Regions from separate parts of the Homo sapiens genome. Here regions 1 and 3 are each linked to region 2. Evidence: fine-mapped expression QTL. A gene starts in region 2. Each other region holds a variant in brackets. All regions are shown on one strand. Distances are from middle to middle. Region 1 has its middle 200 kb from the start of KCNE4. Region 2 holds the start of ACSL3 (acyl-CoA synthetase long chain family member 3). Region 3 has its middle 23 kb from the start of ACSL3.

Evidence for each region.
Region 1: its variant is fine-mapped to the expression of ACSL3 in monocytes (Fairfax 2014, PIP 0.95).
Region 3: its variant is fine-mapped to the expression of ACSL3 in whole blood (TOPMed, PIP above 0.99).

The regions. Positions count from the first base shown.
Region 1 is chr2:223,250,714-223,254,958 of GRCh38, forward strand. No RefSeq gene overlaps it. Among named protein-coding and RNA genes, the nearest start is that of KCNE4, 200 kb to the left of the region's middle. The variant AAAAGAAAGAAAG/A (reference allele first, on the strand shown) is at 1,893.
Region 2 is chr2:222,859,004-222,863,248 of GRCh38, forward strand. It overlaps ACSL3 (acyl-CoA synthetase long chain family member 3), which reads left to right and starts at 2,033. Exons shown (of 17, transcript NM_004457.5): 1 at 2,033-2,255. RefSeq lists an enhancer at 1,748-2,042 and silencers at 1,759-2,088, 2,159-2,528.
Region 3 is chr2:222,835,657-222,839,901 of GRCh38, forward strand. No RefSeq gene overlaps it. Among named protein-coding and RNA genes, the nearest start is that of ACSL3, 23 kb to the right of the region's middle. The variant C/T (reference allele first, on the strand shown) is at 1,749.

The DNA.
Region 1 (4,245 bases), 390 kb after region 2:
GATGTTGACATATTTTTAGAGATTTGAGTCTCGTAGTTGTTATGAGGTCCATGTTATTCCTATAGATCCAAAAGAGGATGTTCAGTATTGAAAAACATTTTGAGCAAGTTAAATGTTCATCATGAACTTTCTTAAGAAATGGTGATTCAGGTTGATTCATTAAATATGCACCTTTTTGAGCTCATTACTGTTTAAAGGATTCAATATCAAATAAAAAAGAAAACCAAACAATAAAATCGTTGTTAGATTATACCATAATGCAAACTACCCTAGAAGAGCAATCAGACTATTCTAGACATTCTATGGCAGGACTGCTCAGCCTCTATTTCCCACACTTTGGTGTTCAGTTAAGCTATAATTTCCCATGTTGTCCCCTGATCCCACCAACTGACAGCCTAGGAGTTACCAGCATTCCACAGGCTGGCTCACCCAATAGCTGGCAGAGACAGCAACATGCAATACTTCTCCCACCACCACCCTTCTCCAGTTTATATTGTCTGAGCCAGCCTTATTGCACCAGCGATCACCACTGAGTGAGAAGTGTTAGTTTCTGGGTGGGGTAGGGAAAGGACAGATGGGTTTATCTTTGGTTGTCTTTTAGGTTTCACCACGTGTTCAAGTGAGCATCTTTTTTTACTGCACACATCTCTCATGTATGCTGCTAGACAAGACCCTGGTAGAAGTTACAAGTTCTTTTTCTTTCTTTCTTTCTTTTTTTTTTTTTTTTTTGAGAAAGAGTCTCGCTCTGTCACCCAGGCTGGAGTGCAATGGCGCAATCTTGGCTCACTGCAACCTCCGCCTCCTGGGTTCAAGCGATTCTCCCACCTCAGCCCCTCGAGTAGTTGGAATTACAGGCGTGTGCCACCATGCCCGGCTAATTTTTGTATTTTTAGTTAAGGGGTTTCACCATGTTGGCCAGGCTGGTCTCAAACTCCTGACCTCAAGCGATCAGCCCGCCTCAGTCTCTCAAAGTGCTAGGATGCCAGGGTGAGCCACCGCACCCAGCTGGAAGTTGCAAGTTCAAAGTGGAGTTCTACCAAACTCATTTAGCTTATTGCAATACAGCCAAAAACATCAGGGACAAATGCTTAAAGTGAGAAGACTTTGGGAATTCAGGAGGTAACCAGGGCTGTGGCGCGCAGCCAGGGTATGTGGGTGCACTACGCATAAGGAGCTTTATCCACGCAACACTCTTGGTCCTGTCTCACTCTTATTATCCCACGTTTCCACTTCTCCTAAATGCTCGTTCATTTTAAGAGAAGTGACTCGGTTACTTGGCTCCTTCTCTCCTTTCCTTAGCTTTTTATGGGCAATAAAACCCAGCTTCTTCCTAGCTTAATGATTTAGCTTTGCTTTAAGGGTTTAATGATAGTTATAACTCAGTCTTTATAGATTTTTTTTTTTTACTCTGAAAGAGAAGGCATTTTCAATCATGTGATTGAGAAATCATTCTTAAAAATAAAAATGCACTGGGATTTTAACATGTTGATTACAGGTACCTTTCTGTTTCTCAGAAAAGGTAAAATTACTAGTAGAAATGAAATTGGGAGAAGTATGGGACATGTAAGCTCTCCTATGACTGAACATCCCAGTTAGAGTTGGGTGAACCTCAGAGAAAGCTAGTTTCATGGCACTGTATTCAGTTAGTTACTCTTACGTTGTTTTGTAAATGTTTTATATATTTCAGTGTGTTGTGTTTCTCCAACTAGATTGTAAACTCATTGAGGGCTTTTTATCATTTTAGTATTACTCTATAAATTTTAGTATAGTTTCCATGTTTATTTAGTCACTGTATTTATTGACTGGTAGTTAACAAAATTTCTCTGACTTTTTACCTGTAAAAAGAACCAATTTCTCTTTTTCCCTCGTCATCTTTGAGTCCTAGTCAGTGA[AAAAGAAAGAAAG/A]AAAGAAAGAAAGAAAGAAAGAAAGAAAGAAAGAAAGAAAGAAAGAAAGAAAGAAAGAAAGAAAGAAAGAAAAAGAAAAAAGAAACCAGAAGCTTATCTCTTGAGCCTGAGGAATGTGCCAGGCAGGAAGCCATGCCTTTAGTAAGATACATGGATTGGCTAGGTTTATTCCCCACCGTAACTCAACTTCTTGTATTGAATTGCAAGTTGAAACAGTAAAGTGCACAATCTTGACTTTACAATGCAATGACTTTTTACAAATGTATACACTCATGTAACTACCAAGGTCAACTTAAATTATTTCCAGCACCCGAAGCCCCTTTCTTCCATCTTCCAGTTAATGATCCCCATAAAATCAACACCATTCTGACTTCTTTCACTATAGATTCATTTTGTTTGTTTGTGGACTTTGAAGAAAGAGAATCACAGTGTACCTAGCCCTTGGCATCTAGCTCTCTACTTTTTAGAGTCAAAATTTGAATTGAGTTGTAATATATAGCAAAGTGCACAAATAAGTATATATTATAGCTCTTTGAACTTTTACTAAATAAATCTATTCAGCCAACCAGCACCCATATCAATTAAGTAAAATATTTCCAATACTCCTGTATTCCTTATTCGTGTCCCTTCCAATCAGTTCTTCAATGTTAAAGATAACCATTTTTCTGACTTCTAAGACTATAGAATAATTCGTCTTTATATAAGTGAGATCATAGAATGTGTCCACTTCTGCGTTTGACTTCTTTCACTCAAAATTATAGCTGGTAGAGTTATCCATGTTAATGTGTACAGTTGTAGTTTGTTTTTCTTTCATTTCTGTTTAGTATTTCATTGAATAATTATACCACCATTTAAGAAGTCAATTATATATTGTTTGAACACGTAGACTTTTAGCAGTGTGGGGCCATTGTGAATAGTGTTGCTAAGAATATTATTGTTTGTGTCTTTTTGTGTGAACATGTATATGTATTTCTGTTGGATATGTACCTAGTAGTAGAACTGTGCATGTTCATGGTTGGCAGATAATACCAAACAGTTTTCTAACATGGCTATTAATTGAATGGATATTATCAAACAGTAATATCCATTAATTGAATGGATATTATCAAACAGTAATATCCATTAATTGAATGGATATTACCAAAGTTTTCTAACATGGTTATTAATTGAAGTTTACACCAGCATTTTACGAAAATTTGAGTTGTTCTACATCCTTATCAACACAGTGGTGTGTGATGCTATTCTGAATAATACTTGACTTTAGGTTTTCGTTTCTTTCTAAGATACAGAAATGTAGTTGTTCTTGTGTATTGACCCCATGTCTGATGATATTGCTAAATGCCTTATGACATTTAGCATACTAGTTTGTGGTAGATCCTTTTGGATGTTTTTATAATCACAACCAGATATTCTGTTAATAGTGATAATCTTATTTCTTACTTTTACATTATCCTATATATAATACTAAATATGTGACAATACTAAATATCTTTTATTTTAAAATATTTTCATTACTTTTTTCCAGTTTTACTGAGTTGTAATTAACAAATAAAATTTATATGTATTGACATATGTATATGCTGTGAAGCGATTAAAACAATAAAGATTAATATATACATTGCCTTAACTTGTTATCATTTTTCTTTTGTGGTGTGAACATTTAAGATCTTCTCTCTTAGCAATTTTTAAGTACACAACATATTACTGTTTACTATATTTGCCTTATTTCTGAATTCAAAGAAAAAATCTCTCAATATTTAGCATTAAGTATGATGCTTAGAGTAGCTGATTTGTAAATAATTCTTATCAGGTTAAGGAAGTTAATTTGTTACATATAACTGTAATTTGAAATTACTTTTCTTCTTTGGTTAGAAGTTTGGTCTGTATAGCATATCTTTTTCCATTTTTTTCCCCATTGCTCTTCGGTCCTTGTAGTTCTGTGTTTTGGTCTGGGGTCCATTTCTTCCTTCTTAAAAAAACTCTGTTTAATCTATCATTTAGTGCAACTCTGCTGATGGAAAATCCTTTCTGTTTCCGTTTATCTGAAAATTTACTTTTTAATCCTTTTTTAGTTTGGTAAAATATACATAACATAAAAGTCACCATTCTAACCATTTTTAAGTACACAGTTCAGTTGTTGTGTAACTATCACCACTATCCATCTCCAGAAATTTTTTATCATCTCAAACTGAAACTCTGTGCCAATTAAACAGTAACTCTCCATTCTCCCTCCCACAGTCCCTGATAACTGTTATTCTACTTTCTGCCTCTATAAATTTGACTATTCTTGGTGCCTCATATAAACAGAATCATACAATGTTTGTCTTTTGTCTGGCTTATT
Region 2 (4,245 bases):
GATTGCCAGCATTTTTTTTGCAATAAAGTATTTTTAAATTAAGATATGTACATTGTTTTGTTAAATATAATGCTATTGCACGCTTTATAGTATGAACATAACTTTTTTTTTTTTTTTGAGATGCAGTTCACTCTTGTTGCCCAGGCTGGAGTGCAATGGCACGATCTCGGCTCACTGCAACCTTCGCCTCCCAGGTTCAAGCGATCTCCTGTCTCAGCCTCCCGAGTAGTTGGGATTACAGGCGCATGCCACCACGCCTGGCTAATTTTTGTATTTTTAGTAGAGACAGGGTTTCATCATATTGGTCAGGCTGGTCTCGAACTCCTGACCTCAGGTGATCCGCCTGCCTTGGCTTCCTAAAGTGCTGGGATTACAGGCGTGAGCCACCGCTCCCGGCGAACATAACTTTTATATTTACTGGGAAACCAAACAATTCATGTGACTCACTTAATTTTGATATTCCCTTTAAGTGTCAGTGGTCTGGAACCAAACCCACAATGTCTCTGAAGTATCTCTATGTATTTCTACTTAGCTTGTTAAACAGCAAACAAGATGAGAATTTAGAATTTTAATTCCCAGGACCATTTTCTTTTAAATATAGGTCCATATCCATAATATATATTCCATAATATAAAGATAATGAAGAAAGATATTGTTGGAATTCTTCTAGTCTGTTTTAGGCTTATGGATAGATAAAAAGGTGCAATATTAGTTTTCTTCTCTCGGAAAAAAACCAGTATTTTCCAGAGGATTTCATGGTTCTAGAAGTACTACTTCTAAAGCCTGCTTCTCTCTGCAGAGCTGCGAATGTCTTTTCAGATAAGAAATTCTGCATTCCATTTATCTTCAGGATGTATCCTTTGATAAGATTTCAACAGATTAATGAGCAACTGAACTGCCATATTTTGAAGTGGGAGAACAGTTTGCCTGAGTCAGGTATCCATCCCTTTAGGTTCTCGATTGGCCCTTGGCCCACGGTGAGTGAGCTCTCTTTGCTTGGTGCATCATCGCTCCACCTAGTTCAAGTTCTGGCGGCTTCCTGATTTTGATTCTCTTGGGAAATGAGGCCTGCTTTAGCCTGAGGCTGGCTCAGGAAGGCAACCTTTCACCTACTTAAGGAAAAGTTCACAGGCAAACTAAACAATATGTTGGGTTAAAAAAAGAGACCAATCCTACTAGTACTGGGTGAGTGAAAATCTTCTCTCTTACAGTACATGTAGTTCTACTACCTGCACTGGATGCTTTCTTTCTTATCCTTGTTTAGTGTCTAAAACGAGAAACAATGGCAAACTCCTTAAAATACAGAACCACTGTGGATTCCTAAGAACGTTCAAAAACAATAATTTGGAGTAAACTTTATTTTTTGAAAAGAAATAGCAAATTTGCATGGTGAGTGCATTTAGAGGAAAACGGGTTATATGCTAGGTCAAGTGAGGCCAAAACAAGAGAAATGATAATGGATAAGCTTTGAGTTTTTGAGGCTCTTCTTGCCCCAGGCAGTTCCAAAAGCCATTTTATTTGGCAGGATTTGACAGCAATTTCTGCAAGAACGGGATAACTAATCCAGTTAAAAACGAAAAAGAATATGCATACTATTTCATAATTTATATTGAAATTTATACATTACAGCAATAATTGTGCGACTGTAATTTTTTTTTTTTTTTTTTTGGTGGAGGGGTGTTTTTTCCTGGAGGGACGGAGCTCCTGCAGACCCTATTGGGCTAGCCGCTCCTCCCACGTCGCTGCCGCAGATCCCCGCTCCCCTCCCCCACCCGCGGTCCGTCCCTCCTGGTCGACCCCGTTCCCGCCCCCGCCCCGCGCAGACTGCAGCCAGGTCCGGTCCGCGGCGGCTCCGCGGAATGACCCGTAGTAACCTCGCCCCGCCCCGGGCCGCCAGCGCCGCGCTCCCCGGCCCGAATTCGATAGGCCCAGCCCCGCACGCGCCACCGCTCGCGGGCCAATGGGTGGCAGCCTCTCTGCATAGGCAACGAGTGCCGGCCGGGGGTGAGCGTCCCAGGCGGTTCCGCTCAACAGACGCTGCTGTGGCTGCGCCGGGCTGCGACACTGCAGTTGTCTACGCGGCCGGGGCCGGGACGAGGAGGCGTTGGACGGGGTCGCATACGTTCGTCCCCTCGCATTGCGGCCCCGACAGCTGCGCCAGGATCCCCGGGCGGCGGCGCGGGGCGTGAACGCTCTGGGGCTCAGCCAGGCCTGCGCGGGCCCGAGGCCGGAGGAACCCGGACTCCGGCGTAGCGGTGAGTGCGGCGCCGGTTGTGGGAGCGGCGGGAGCCGGTTGGCGGCGCGGCCTCCGCGTGCGGTTCGGCTGGGCCCGAGGGGCTCCCCAGCCTCGGGGCCTGGGACCCTGTCGTCGGCGCCGCACCTGACCGCTGGGTGTGCGCGCGGGCGGCCCGCGGCACCAGGAGCAGCGGCGAGCAGGGTGGGAGGCGGCCCGCTGGGGTCCGGGAAGCGGCTGACGTGGGGCCTCGGCCCTGAGCCCACGCGAGCCGGGAGCTGCAGCGCGAACGGCGTGGGGCGGCGCTGACCAGGCAGGGAGGATGCACTGCGTGCCTCCCGGCGCTGTGGGGCGGGGTGGGGAGGCCACCCCCTTGAATTAAGAGGGCTCTGCCGCGGCCCCAGCAGTGCGGTGTCCGTGGAAGGAGACTCAGCCCTGCGATTTCGGAAAACCCTTGTTTGGCGGGGCGGGAGGGGCTGTTGCTGCGTGGGGTGAGAAGAAACTAGGTGCGTGAGGTGGGTCGACCTTGGTGATTGGTTCTGGGCACTATCGTGGTGGTGGGACTGGGATTAAGACTGTCGTTTGGGGTTTGAGAGTTGCAGCTTTGCTTTTCCCCAAGTGCGTTTTAATCATATACTGTTGATAGGTTGGGTAACTCGGGGACTGCTTACTACCAGCAGTCCTGTGGGGTAGGTGTTATCAGGCTCGTTTCACAGATGAGGAGCCCGAGGCACAGGTTTTCAAATGGTTTTCGCAGGAAGTCTGATACTAGAAAGTGTGCTCTAAGCTGCTGTATAAAAGATCCCTCGAAAATGAAAAGGCTGGAGGAATGTCTTTAAAATTATATGGAAGCTAGAAAGGCAGTAGGCTTTGTGAACGAAATTATAGCTGAAAAGAATGACAAATAGCTGACATTTATTGAGCTTTTATTACATGCCACGCACTGTTTGGAGAGCTTTATGTACAGTGTCTTCACACTGTTAACAGTCCTCTGGGGTGGGGGTTATTCCCATTTTACAGCGGGAGAAACTGCAGATTGGACGACTTAGCTTGCCTCAGATCTCAGCTAGTAAGAAGCTGGGATTCAGACAGGCCTGTGTAAATCCAGAGCTCTGAAATCTAAGCACTATATTTTGCTGCCTCTCCTTGGTGGCTGGCTGAATAGTTTCCACAGTGGATTTTAGTCTGGGTGGCCAGGAGAGTTGTAGTTTGATGATACCTTCTTTCATGTTTATCAACCTATTTTGTTTCCCCAAATTAGTTCTGAGAGTTAAGGGTGCTGATGAGTTGCTCCTGAAAGTGTATTAGAAGGGTATTATAGGGGACAGGTGGTGTGACATGGGAATCTTTTGCACAGACTTGATTTTGTTTTCTGGCATTTTTCTGGGCAGTTCCTCACACTTGGGGATGAGTAAGCCTTCTAATTGTCGCATGCGTTTTCTCTCTAGACTTTTCCTGGTTTCTCTTTTGTATAAAAATATTGGTTTTGTAGGATGACATTGGGTGTGGGGCAGAGTGGTCCATTGGACCTAAGGGTCAAGGTGACAAGTCACCTCGTATCTTTGGATCTCAGTTACTGAATTTGTAAGGCTTTAGACTCAGTGACTTAAAGCTTAAATATTCTGAGGGTCTAAAATGTTCTCCTTGAAGGAAGAAAGGAAGAATGGGAGAAATGAAGAACGCACAAATTATAAGGGGAAAATCATCCTCTGTCTGGTTTGGGGTGAGAATCAGATCTTAAAGCCTCGAGGTCTGTTTCATTTGCTTTTGTGTTTCCCTGCTGTTTGGTTCCAGTTAAGTGACTGTTTCATTCCTCATTTGATTAATTGACTCACCTAGAGCCATTTAATTTTTGTGATATGTCAGGCACCTTATTAGGTGCTGGGAATACAGCTGTGAATAGAGGGAAAAATAGACAAGAAGCAAATGGTCATACAAACGGATAGGTGGTTGCAAGTTTGATAGGTACGATGAAGGAAAAGTATTGTGTGAATGAGGATTATGAGCAAGAT
Region 3 (4,245 bases), 23 kb before region 2:
CCACTGTAATGCCTCATGTATTTTATGACCTCAGTTATCTGGAAGACAGCCAAGGATCCAGCACGAGCAAAAATCACCTGCTGACAACATAGGAGAGCTGAAAATAATAAAGTTATGCAAAGGTATCAAGGTTAGCTATTCCGTTGGGGGCTGCAGTCTCTGCATACTTTTACAACGCCTTTTCTCATTGCCATTCCCTGTCTGCAGCTTTAGTAGAGAGAAGCTGGAGCAGAGAAAGGAGGTAGCTTTTCTTTTTTTTTTTTTTGAGACAGAAAAAAAAAGGGTCTGACTTTGTTGCCCAGGCTGGGAGTGCAGTGGCACGATCTTGCCTCACTGCAACCTCTGCCTCCCAGGTTCAAGTGATTCTTCTGCCTCAGCCTACCGAGTAGCTTGGATTACAGACACATGTCACCACACCCAGTTAATTTTTGTATTTTTAGTAGAGCCGGCATTTCACCATGTTGGCCAGAGTGGCCCTGAACTGGGCTCAAGCGATCTGCCCACCTCAGCTTCCCAAAGTGCTGGAGTTACAGGTGTGAGTTACCTTGCCTGACTGGAGGCAGTTTTTCAAGAGAATTGCAAGTGACTGTAAAGAAGTGAATCTGGCCAGGTACAGTAGCTCATGTCTATAATCCCCACATTTTGGAAGGCCAAAGCAGAAGAATTGCTTGAGCTCAGGAGTTCAAGACTGGCCTGGGAAACAGTGAGACCCTTCCTCTACAAAAAATAAAAGATAAAAAATTAGCCAGGTACAGTGGCTTATGCCTGTAATCCTAGCACTTTGGGAGGTCATGGTGGGAGGACTGCTTGAGCTCAGTAGTTCAAGACCAGGTGGGCAACGTAACATAAAAAAAAATAACAATAAAAAAAATAAAACGTGGGCATGGTGGCGCATGCCTGTGGTCCCAGCTACTAAGTCTAAGGTAGGAGGATCATGAGCCCAAAATGTCGGGGCTTCAGTGAGCCATGATAGAGCCATTGTGCTCCAGCTTGAGCAACAGAGCACGACACTGTTTTAAAAAAAAATTAGCCAGGCACAGTGGCTCATGAGGCTGAGTCAGGAGGATTGCTTGAGTCCTGGAGATTGAGGCTGCAGTAAGCTATAATTGTGCCTTTGTACTTAGCCTGGGCAACAGAGTAAGACTCTCTTCTAGAAAAATAATAATTATAATTTTTTTTTCAAGAAGGCTGGATGCAATGGCTCATGCCTGTAATCCCAGCACTTTGGGTGGCCTAGGTGGGTGGATCATTTGAGGTCAGGAATTCGAGACCAGCCTGGCCAACACTGTGAAACTGTCTCTGCTAAAAATACAAAAATTAGCTGGGCGTGGTGGCATGCACCTGTAATCCCTGCTACTTGGGAGGCTGAGGCAGGAGAATCACTTGAATCCAGGAGATGGAGGCTGCAGTGAGCCGAGAATGTGCCATTGCACTCCAGCCTGGGCAACAGAGTGAGATTCCATCTCAAAATAAATAAACAAATAAATATAAAATAAAATAAAGAAAGAAGAAGAGAATCTGTCCTGCCTGGTGAGGTGGACATCCTCTTTGCACTCTTCCATGTCCGGTTCCTTCGTTTTTGTCTCCTTTCTGACTTCTCTTTATTCACTGGATTTTTAAATGTTGGTGATGCCCAGGGTTCTGTCCTTCCAACTTCTCTTCATATTGTACGTTCTCCCTTGACTGATCCCATCCGCAAACATGGCTTCAGCTACATTGGCTTGAGGACATCTACATCTCTAGCCTGG[C/T]GGCTCCACTGAATTTAGATTCATCTATCCATCACAAATTTCCAACCGGATGCACCCAACCGTAGTCATCATCTTTTTCCAAAACCTGAGTTTCTGTTTGAATAAAAACACCAACCAGCCAGTCACCCAAGCCAGAAACCTGGGAACCGCTCCCAGAATCCCCGCTTTTCTCTTCTCTTTTCTTTTCCTGCACTCTACTTCCTTTTCCTGTCCTGTCAATAGTATCTCCTGTACGTTGCTAATTCAGTCCCTCTTCTCCACCCTCACTGTGCTTTAGTTAATTCCTTTTTATCAAAACTTACCCAGACCACTACAGGAGACTGTGTTTCTCTCCCTATCTCCAGTCTTAGTCTTCTGCAATTTTTTTTCTCTAAGGAATGCTTAAACAAACAAACGAGATTACATTTGGTCATACTTTTCTTCTACCTAAAAGTGACTAATGCTCAAGGTAAATTTCACAAGATAAATTTCAAACATCCAGGCTTGACATGGCTGACAAGTTTATTCATGTTCTTCATCACATGTTCTCGGGCCACTTTCCTACACACAACTTGAGCTGTAGTCATCCTGGCCGACTCGTAATTCTAAAAATATGCCATTGCCCATCTTGCCTATGTGCTTCTACACAAATTGTTCTCTCTACTTGGAATGTCTACCCACTCCCTTGTCCTCTACCTCTCTGCCCAACTTTTATGCATCCTCAGGGACTTAGCTCAAACATCATTTCTTAGAGGTATGTTCTGACAACTGAGCTGATCTGGAAGCTTGTTCTTTGTAACTCTCCCAATTATTAGCCTGTGCAGAACTCTACTCCTTATCACATGGATTTTCTTGTATGGTGCCTTCATTAGGCTAATTATTATAGATGAGAACTGCATCAAGCACATGTCTGATACATAGGAGAGAATGAATGACATGTTGAATCAATGCTTCCTGCTTAGAAAATTATTCCATCTCGGCCGGGCGCGGTGGCTCATGCCTGTAATCCTAGCACTTTGGGAGGCTGAGGTGTGTGGATCACCTGAGGTCGGGAGTTCGAGACCAGCCTGGCCAATATGGAGAAACCCCCTCTCTACTAAAAATACAAAAAATTAGCCAGGCTTGGTGGCGCATGCCTGTAATCCCAGCTACTTGAGAGGCTGAGGCAGGAGAATTGCTTGAACCCGGGAGGCGGAGGTTGTGGTGAGCCAAGATCGTGCCATTGCACTCCAACCTGGGCAACAAGAGCGAAACTCCATCTCAAAATAAAACAAAACAAAATAAAATAAAATAATTCCATCTCAGTCCAAATCACAAGGAGTTGATAGACAACCCCTCCCAGCAACAACAGTAATGTCCTAAGGGCTCCTTAAGATGCCAGGGTTGAAGAGAAAAGACAAATAGATTGAGACTGAAAGTCAGAGCTTGTTAGACAGACATTGGAGACATCAAAAGGGCATTAATGACAATGAGCCTGGATTATTCAGTGCGACCACTCATCCCGGAAGCTGGTGGACATCCCTTGCTTTTGCCTCCCAGTGATACTTCGCCTTTCTTTTAGTAATGGTAGCTTAGTATGTCTTAGAGATACCAACCCAATCCCTGTGGTTCAGGTGGGGCTGATTCCAGGCTTTCACTCCATTGATAAGTACAGGTCCTAGGTCTGTCAAATCATAACATTCCATTCCCTTTGCCTCAGCAGTTGGTTCAGTGATAGGCACATAACACAAGCCAGACCAATGATACTAAACACCAAGACATTCTCTGGAGCTATCTAGAAAGAGTTTCTTTTTCCAGTGGGGTTTTTGGTGGAAATATAAGGTGGAATTATAAGCCTGCGGTGACTAGTTACCATTTTTGCCTACATCTGGAAGAAGAGTTGAGAATGAGGCCTATGTAAAAGAAAGAGGTCCTGAGAGGCAGGAAAATACATTGCTGCTGGTAATGTTTTGAGTATCTAATCCAACTTTGCATAACACCAAGCCTGTTTGTTTTGATTTTCTAGTTACATGATAAAATAAACCCCTCCACCCCCCCTTTTTTTTTTTGAAGCAGAGTCTTGCTCTGTCACTCAGGCTGGAGTGCAATGGTGCGCTCTCAGCTCACTGCAACCTCTGTCTCCCAGGTTCAAGCAATTCTCCTCGCTCAGCCTCCCAAGTAGCTGGGATTACAGGTGCCCACCATCACGCACAGCTAATTTTTTGTATTTTTAGTAGAGACAGGGTTTGCCATGTTGGCCAGGCTGCTCTCGAACTCCTGACCTCAGGTGATCCACCCACCTTGGCCTCCTAACGTGTTGGGATTACAGGGATGAGCCACCGCTCCCGGACAAATTCCCCTTTTTGAATACGGAAATTCAATTTGGATCTCTGTTGCTTGCAACCTAAAGAGTGTTTATTAATATAGAAATCAGAATAGCCAACACATCTATAGAAAAAATGTGAATACAGATGTTCTGTGATCATGTGACATGGATGTGCTTCCTTCCATCCAAATCATCTCACCCAGTGACTCTCTG